Regions from separate parts of the Homo sapiens genome. Here region 1 is linked to region 2. Evidence: fine-mapped expression QTL. A gene starts in region 2. The other region holds a variant in brackets. All regions are shown on one strand. Distances are from middle to middle.

Region 1 (4,538 bases), 49 kb after region 2:
TCCCAGCACTTTGGGAGGCCGAGGCGGTCGTATCACCTGAGGTTGGGAGTTCGAGACCAGCCTGACCAACACGGAGAAACCCCATCTCTACTAAAAATACAAAAAAAAATTAGGTGGGCATGGTGGCTCATGCCTGTAAATTCCAGCTACTGAGGAGGCTGAGGCAGGAGAATCACTTGAACCTGGGAGGTGGAGGTTGTAGTAAGCCAAGATGGCGCCATTGCACTCCAGCCTGGGCAACAAGAGTGAAACTCCATCTCAAAAAAAAAAACAAAACAAAAACAAACCAAAAAAACCCCTGCAACTTCTCTAGTCTTAAACACACCAGTCCTATAGATGGATACTGTGGGTAAGGAGAAACAGAATGAATGAAAATGAAAACATGAACAAGTTAGATTTGACAAAATTACACTTCAATTAGTAATGACAAGATACTACACAAAGGTTTGTTTTCCAAATGTGAAATCTCCATTGACTTCACAAAGACATTGTCACACAGCAATCACATATTATAAAAAGCACCATCGCAAATGTACCCAAAACCATATTCTATAAAACTGAACTACTGCCTTTGTAAACTTTCATCTGGAAATCTTTTAACCAGCCATTTCAAGAAGCACCAACCTCATATGCATGCCCACCAATTAAAAAAAAAGAAGAAAAAAGTAGAAAACTTACTATGCATCTATGACTTGAAGAAATACCAGCAGATACTTCAGCACATCAAAATCCAAGTCCAGAGTAACTGGTTTCATATTTCTTATTATGAGCTCTCAGCAGGAATCTTACTATATGATGAAATATTTAAGCTAGAAACATCTCTCTTTAAAAGTATTTCAGTTTTTAAGACTCAGTTTCAGAATAAAATTTAATGAATGTTATGTTGAAGACATACAAAATTAAGAGAGACGGGTATATTTTAGGGAGAAACTCCTATGTATGCTAAACCGGATTGAGAATCTCTACATTTTAGTTTCCTTTTTAAAAGAAATTGCAACAGAGACTCAATGCAAATCCAGACACAACTGTGTTGTTCTGTTTTATCTTCCTACCCCCATCTCCTGCTTATTTTTATCTTTTAGTGCTTTTTTACACAAATTAAACATTGCAAAAACTATTCCAATTTTTAAAAATCGCAAATTCAGAAAGATTGGAGTTGCATCTCAAATATTTAAAAACAAATCTTACAATTAAAATTTTCAAATAATAAAAACAGTAGTTTAAAACTTATTTAATTGTCACTTATCAATCCAAAATTATTATCTTTCACTTCATTTTTAATGAGATTGATTTTCGTTTTTAAATAGCAATGTCACTACATCAGAATGCGGTGATTTTTTTCTGCATTCGAAATACTTTCAAATTCTATGTTTTTGACAGGTTTTTAGATTACATAGAAAATGAATAAAAAACATTCTGTTGAATAAAATATACTGAATTATATAATAAGCAAGACACACTCCTTTGGAGGATAAACTGCTGGCAAAACAAAATATCCTGTATATATATAAGTGAGCAAGAAAATTCTTTCTCTTTTTTCTTTTTTCTTCTTTCTTCTTTTTCTTTCTTTTTCTGTCTCTTTCCCTTCTTTCCTTCTTTCTTTCCTTTCTTCTTTACTCTCAAAATCCACTTTTCCTAAAGTATGTTCTACAAAACTGGAATTGAGAATTAAGGTGGGCAGGGAGGAGAGGGAAAATAAAAAGATAAAATAAAGACAGATAAAATTATAGCAAACAATTGGTAAAGGCTACAGTCACACTCCAGGATGGTAGGCACTGCTTGAAGTAATTTAAAATGGAGCAAAAGCTCAGATTTGTATTGTAGTATGAGGATCAAGGAGGAATTTAACACCTGAAACCATTGTGCCTTTTTATTGTAAATGCTGCTTCCTCCTTCCTACCTCCATAGAAAGGACTTTTTATTTCGCTATTTCTTCCTCTTTGAGGTCCTCTAGGTGTGCATAGTGAGCAGGAAGTTTGTGTCTTCTGGGATAACTCAAAAGATATCTTAAAAGTCTCATTTTTAAGACTGTGTATATCTGTATGGATAGGGCTTGTGTAACTGACTTCCCA[G/A]TTTTGGGGTGAAATTCAACCTTTTCTTTTGTTTCCATTCTTAGAAAACATGGAGAGGCATTCTTTGATTTAGAAAAATTGAGATTATTAGAAATTTTGCTTTTCTGTGTTCTGTAATCCATTTGGTTATGACAAACTTCATACGTGACTGCTGTTTGGAGTCAGTGTGCAAACAAGCATTATCATATTATGAAGAGATTTAATTAACTAGGTAATATGTTTGAATATCCAGTACAAGGTGAAGGCTGCAAAACAAATTAGTTTTACCCACTATCTGAAAAGCATTCCTTCAAACGGAGGGATTTTCAACGTACTTGATTCTTTACTCATAGATCAGGTGGTAAAATAACTAGTTTTATTTTTTTATTTTGGCTGAAGTGTTTTCATCTTTTCTTCACTACGACCTAAGGAAGAAAGCTATTATAACATAAGTATATGACTGGGTAATTTTTTGTCTTTGTTTTTGGGATTGAATTGAAACATGATGTCATTTACAAGGGTGTAAAGTGACCAAACTTGGAAATAAGCCATGGCCATCTCATGGAATTTGTTCCCCAACATTTACAGTTTTTGCAGTGACCAATAGAACAAGTGACCACGTGCAGGTAGTTTATAGGCTGATAGATAGTTCACTGTTCCATGTGAGAAGGATGAATCAAAACTTAAGGTAGATTGGGTGAAAGATATTTGCTGTTTTTAAGATTATTTGACTTTTTAAAAAACTGTAAATACAAATTTCACGTAATTTATTTGAACAATGTCTACTCCTTCCTAAGGTCATTTGATTTCCTCAAAATTCAAGGTCAGACAAGGTTATGCTTCAGCCAAGATTTGCTTTTGGTCCCGTCTTACCTTATCTCTCCTCACCACCATCACTCTCAACTTTGCCTAGAGTTCCCCTCCTCCTAGACCTCTCAGTTGTTTCTCTGTAAACATCGCCTTAGTACTCAGAGTATGTATGACAGCTGCTGAGTGTATAGTGTCCTTATTTTTACAACATACAAGATCTGACCTGCTTAGAAATCTTTCCTGGTTTCCTCCTCTGTCAGACAATCTTGCTTCTCTTTATGGCTTTAGATTCAGGCTACCCAATATTAACAAAACCTGTTAAAGTACTCTTTGGGAGCATCAATAGGTTGGTGTGTGTGTCTCTCCGTCTGGGTAACATCCTTATGTTTTCATAGAGGTCACTGGAACCAGAACACTTAACTCAAATATAGACTGTACTCTCTTCCCTCAATATTATGGCAGAAATAGGTGCCATTGGTCTCAATAAGGACCAACGGATGCAGTATATTAATAGATGGTTCCCATCACCCATAAGTAGCATGAAATACCTGCTTTTTCTGATGTATGATTGTTAAGTTATGGGATAGGGTTCAGCAAAAGCATTAATAGCAACAGAAAGCAAACTATTTATTCCTCTTTCATAACATGAACCAGAATCAAATAGTTGGAAGCCAATTTTTGAATCTGAAGCAGATAATGTTTCCTGTATCCTGCTATTATTTTTCTCCCCAGCATGTGTTCAATGAAGATAAGTCCCGTGAATAGTTATCTGACTCCATAAAAACCATTAGGCCAGAGTCCAATGAGATATCACAGCTGTGCTACGGATGAGATAATAGAAAAAGAACAGCATTCAAAGCTTTTCATAGTATCCATGTATACCTTGAAGAGGGTAGTGGACAGAAGACAGGACCCAGAGTGACGTGGTCCTGACTTCCCTGGGCAGGCATTGAGGGGATGGGATTGGAGTTGGAGCCAGGAAGAAAAGTTATTTAAAGAAAGAGCCAAGAGACTGTTCTATGTTATTTATCTCCTAAAACCTAGAGATTGGGATAGTTCTTTCTTTCCTCATGTTACTGTGGAAGAGTAGGATGCAACCAAGATGTTACAGTAAACTTCAGGCTCCTAGATAAAGCCAAAAAGCAGGATGAAATTGATGGTTCAGGGGCACAGACTCTGAAATTCTTTCTCAGGAAGTGCCTATCATAGGTTCAACCAAAACAAGTCATTAGAACATGTGTAATTCTGTCCTAGTAAGGTCTAAAAGTTGGCTAGTGTGCTGGTGCCTATATTGCTTCCTCTGGCCAAACTGCAATGTCGGGTTTATTTATTAATGGCTATCTTTCCATTAAGCCTGCTTCCACAACCAAATGGAGATTTCTCAGCCTGCCGAAAGGATAAGTCTGACCTCTGTTTGCCTATGTTCTTTAGGCTAGCCTTTTGCTTAATTTTTTAAAAGCTGACTTAAAGATATGACTTTAGGCTACATTAGTAACAGAGGGAAATCTTGGCAAATCTCACCGACAAGAGTGAGTGAGAGCTTCAGGGGTTTGTGCCCCAATGGCCAGGTTTCATCCAAGAGCATTTGTGTCTAAGTGTCAGAATCAGGATATTTTTTAAAACGTGTAGATGTTTTCTTCATGATTAGGTCAAAAGATCAGCTCTACTCACTGGGAT
Region 2 (4,000 bases):
CCACTCCCCTATACCCTTCACCCTTGCCCCCCACTGCCAAAATTGGAATTTTCTCATACAGGGACCTTTTCAGCAAGAAAAACTAAATAGATACTTTGTTGTTGTTTTTTTTTCTTATTAGATGTTGGACAAGACAGATATCTTCCAGAATATTTCCTCAATTGTAGAGAAAACAAATTCTTAAAGCTTCTGGTGAAATTTTCATGTAAATAATTTGGAGAAGTTAAATTGCAAGAGATTACTAATTCTCAGTTCTCAGCAGACACTGTCTTTTAACTTCCAAAAGCTTGAAAGGTATGGGTGAGTTTTATTCCAATTATCATCAAAAACTGCAAAAACAGAACCCTTATAAAATATTCTGATCGCTCTTTAAGCTATAACTGTTCTGAGGCAATATGGAGCCTGATATAAATTAAGATGGTAACATTAAAACTTATTTGATGAGGTACTAATGAAAGAGCTAATTGGTAGCTTTTCTTTTTTAATATTCTATTATTAGGAATACAAATTGTTTTATGTTAAAACAATTTTATTTTTATTTATTTATTTTTTTGAGACAGAGTTTCATTCTTTCACCCAGGCTGGACTGCAGTGGCAGGATCTCAGCTCACTATAAACTCAGCCTCCTGGGTTCAAGCAATTCTCTGCCTCAGCCTCCCGAGTAGCTGGGATTACAGGCCCCTGCCACCACACCCAGCTAATTTTTGTATTTTTAGTGAACTCGGGGTTTCACCATTTTGGTCAGGCTCGTCTTGAACTCCTGACCTTGTGATTCACCTGCCTCGGCCTCCCAAAGTGCTGGGATTACAAGCGTGAGCCACCAAGCCCAGCAACAATTTTTAATCAAATAAAAATAATTACTTCTCTGAATTTTTTTGTTATGATGGCCTAGCATATTGTATTATATGGTTTCTTATTTATTAATTTCCACATCTCTAGGCATTCTGGAGGTATCTAAAATTACACACAGGCATTTTACCCATTACTGTACAATTTTCATACAAACATAGAATAAAAGAATGTTCGGTCAATAGAGGAAGATAGGAAAAAAGTCTTCCACTTCAGTGCCATCGTAGAAAAGCAGAAATTCTTCAGTTTTCTCATAGTTGCCATCCCCTCTTGAGTTTTCCAAAAATCAGTGATCCCATTGAACCATTGATGATAGCTTTATGAGCATTTAGAGAATTTCAATTAAAATGAAGCCCATCTTATTCTAACCTGTCACTTTCTAATGTATTTTACTCACATGAACCATTTGTCTGCAAGGCAGTTCAGCATATCTTACCCAACAGATTTCTGAGGATGCTCTAGTTTATCCCCAGCTATAGGTTCTTCCTTTACATCTCCATGTAAACTTACTGAATTTCTTATTTCTTATTATTTTTTTCTGTGCATGCCCAGAGGCTCAAGAAATGAGCCTTTCTATCTTTCTACCTTTACTATCGCCAAGGTAAGCTGGGTAGTCCAGGTGCATGACTGACCTTGGCTAAAGAGTATGTTTGCTTTACTTTTAACTAATTTAACTCATAGAGAAACTTGATCTCAAATGTCCTCTGGAATGACATTTGTTTAAAAAACATGACCTCTGGTTCTTTTCAGATTTAAACAAAGCAATTATAAAAAAGAAAGACAAAGAAATGGTTATAGTCTGAGTTACATATTTTTATGCATGAAATTGTAATTTTGTTGGAAACATGATTAACAATTTTGAAATATTAAGATTGAAAATGAAATCATCATATTACTCACCTTTAAGCAGAGTTTGTGGTGTCCTCGGACCTAAGCTGCAAATTATTGGGGAAAAAATAGGTATGCAGAATGAAGAGGGTATATATGTTAATCCAAACAAAGCTTCTTTTCTTATTGCTAGCTAACACAAGGCAATGCTGTCATATCCCAGAAGCCTAGCAACACCTAGAGGGTTGTCAAAATAAATGTTCTCTGGAACTTGAACTTTGCAAATGATTACACCAATCAGTAGTAACCCTGAAACTCTGGGTGTTGGATGTTACACAGAGTCCTGAATTTTCAGTGAGTTTTCAATTCAAGGGCTATTGTAGTAGCTATTGCTACTGCATAGAAATCTCTCTTTCCATTTTAAAGAATCCTTTAGATTAATTGCTTAAAATTGCTGCCCCCCTTAGGAATGTATAGATTCTTAGTTTTTGATTATAGAATAGTTATTGGTAACTATTTAAGAAATGTTTTTGGAGACAATGTGATTGTGTATGTAGAAAATTCAAAAGAATCTACAAACATTAGAATTAATAAATGAATTTAGTATGATTTATCAACACAAGTTTATTATAGTAAAAAGTGTTTCTATATGCCAGCAAAACCAAACAGAAAATTTAATTTGGAAAGAATTAAAATAGCAATGATCAAATGGGCTCTTTATATGTAATGATGATTACGCTTCTCTGAAATGGTTGCAATTTAACTTTAGATTGAAGTAAAATGGATTTCATCCTAAGGTGAAGCAGAACAAAATAGTGCAATAGAAAAGAAAAAAAACTATAGGGACTGAGAATGTGGATACATATTCTAGTCTTGTTTCTGCACTAAGCAGCTACCAGCTATGTGAGCTTCAATAAATCACTATACCTCATTGGAACACTGGTCCCTCATTTGTAAAACAAGTGTTTTTCAAACTTTTTTCAAAGCAGTAGAAAACAACTAAAACAAATATTCCTTAGACAGCTTAGATTTTTATCACATGGTGGGAAATGATGATCTCAGCAAGTCTAAAGATTACTTGAAACACAGCTGGGAACCCACCACTCAAAGGTCACATAGTTTAATATACATGGTAGTAACTTTCCCAAGGCCAGAGTAAGTCAGAACTGGAATACAGATGATCTGATTTCCAGTCTTTTTTCTCTCTCTTATACTACATTGAGATTTTAAAGATTGAAATTTGGGCCTAAAGAGAAAGTAGAGTGGTGTGCTGCAGACCAGTGTTGAAGCTAGTTTGGGGCTGGGATAGCAGCTTCACCCTTGATTACCTGAGAAGATAAACAGGAAAAGAAATATTTGGTGATTGGACAAGAATATATGTCATTTAATTTGCATATTTCTTTCTTTAATTGGTCTTTGAGGTCCTAAAATAAAATTCATTTGTCCTGAGTTCAAGGTGTTTGGAGCTAAAGGCAAATACTGGAAGTCATAATACAGAGAGATGCAAAGTTAGGTGCCAGTAGGATGAGCTTAAAGAGGACTTTATTTGTAATGTGGGCTATGAAGAGGACAGAGAAGTAAGATTGTATGCTGTGGCACTGGAAAAACACAGGTGGAGAGAGTTAAGGATGGTAAGGGGAAATCCTTGAGATGGAATGCGAATGTCTGTGATCCAAACACTAGAATTGACCCAGCACCAACTAAGAATCTAGAATCTTTTCAACAATGTATTTGGGTTCTCCATCTTGGGTTCTTTTGGAAGGTTAAATGACATATCTCACTCATGAGTCCTTTTTCTAGAGCAGGGATTGGTAAACTAGCCTGATGCCCGTTTTTGTAAATAACGTTTTATAGGAATAAAGTCACACAATTGGCCATTGTTTATGGTTGCTTTTGTGCTACAATGGTAGAGTTAAGAAGCTGGCAACAGAGGCTCTCCAGCCTGAAAAGCCTAAAATATTTACCGTCTGGCCCTTATAGGAAAAGTTGCAACCCAGAGAGAAATATTTCTGGTCTGATACATACAACAAAGTGTCCAGTGGCTTTGGGAAGTAGAAGTAGGCTAATTGGGACTGATGAGTAGGTGATTGTTTCAGAGCTAGGAATTGAATACTTGTGTGCAGTTGTGCTCAGGTCTGACTCTGTGCATGCAAAGAATATAGGTGTTCTCTAAACAATATTTAGATGTGTGCTGCTGAAAAACAAAGTCTGCTATGAAGTTTACTGGCACTGGCTGAGTTGCTTCAGCAACTGCAGGCCTTCTGAAGTTTTGGCTGGTAACACAGAAGACCTTCTCACACAAAATCTCCTATTTTCATAAGGT

Direction of the effects. Positions count from the first base shown, and alleles are read on the strand shown. Sizes are in standard deviations (SD) of each study's normalised expression.
As copies of A replace G in region 1, the expression in esophagus mucosa of the gene that starts at base 1,906 in region 2 goes up (small effect, 0.20 SD a copy in GTEx).

Evidence for each region. PIP is the estimated chance that this variant, and not a neighbour inherited with it, causes the effect.
Region 1: its variant is the best candidate, but not a certain one, in a credible set for the expression of C6 in esophagus mucosa (GTEx, PIP 0.77).

What each region holds. Positions count from the first base shown.
Region 1 is chr5:41,260,516-41,265,053 of GRCh38, forward strand. It overlaps a transcript of C6 not described here. Among named protein-coding and RNA genes, the nearest start is that of C6, 49 kb to the left of the region's middle. The variant G/A (reference allele first, on the strand shown) is at 2,073.
Region 2 is chr5:41,211,627-41,215,626 of GRCh38, forward strand. It overlaps C6 (complement C6), which reads right to left and starts at 1,906. Exons shown (of 18, transcript NM_000065.5): 1 at 1,750-1,906.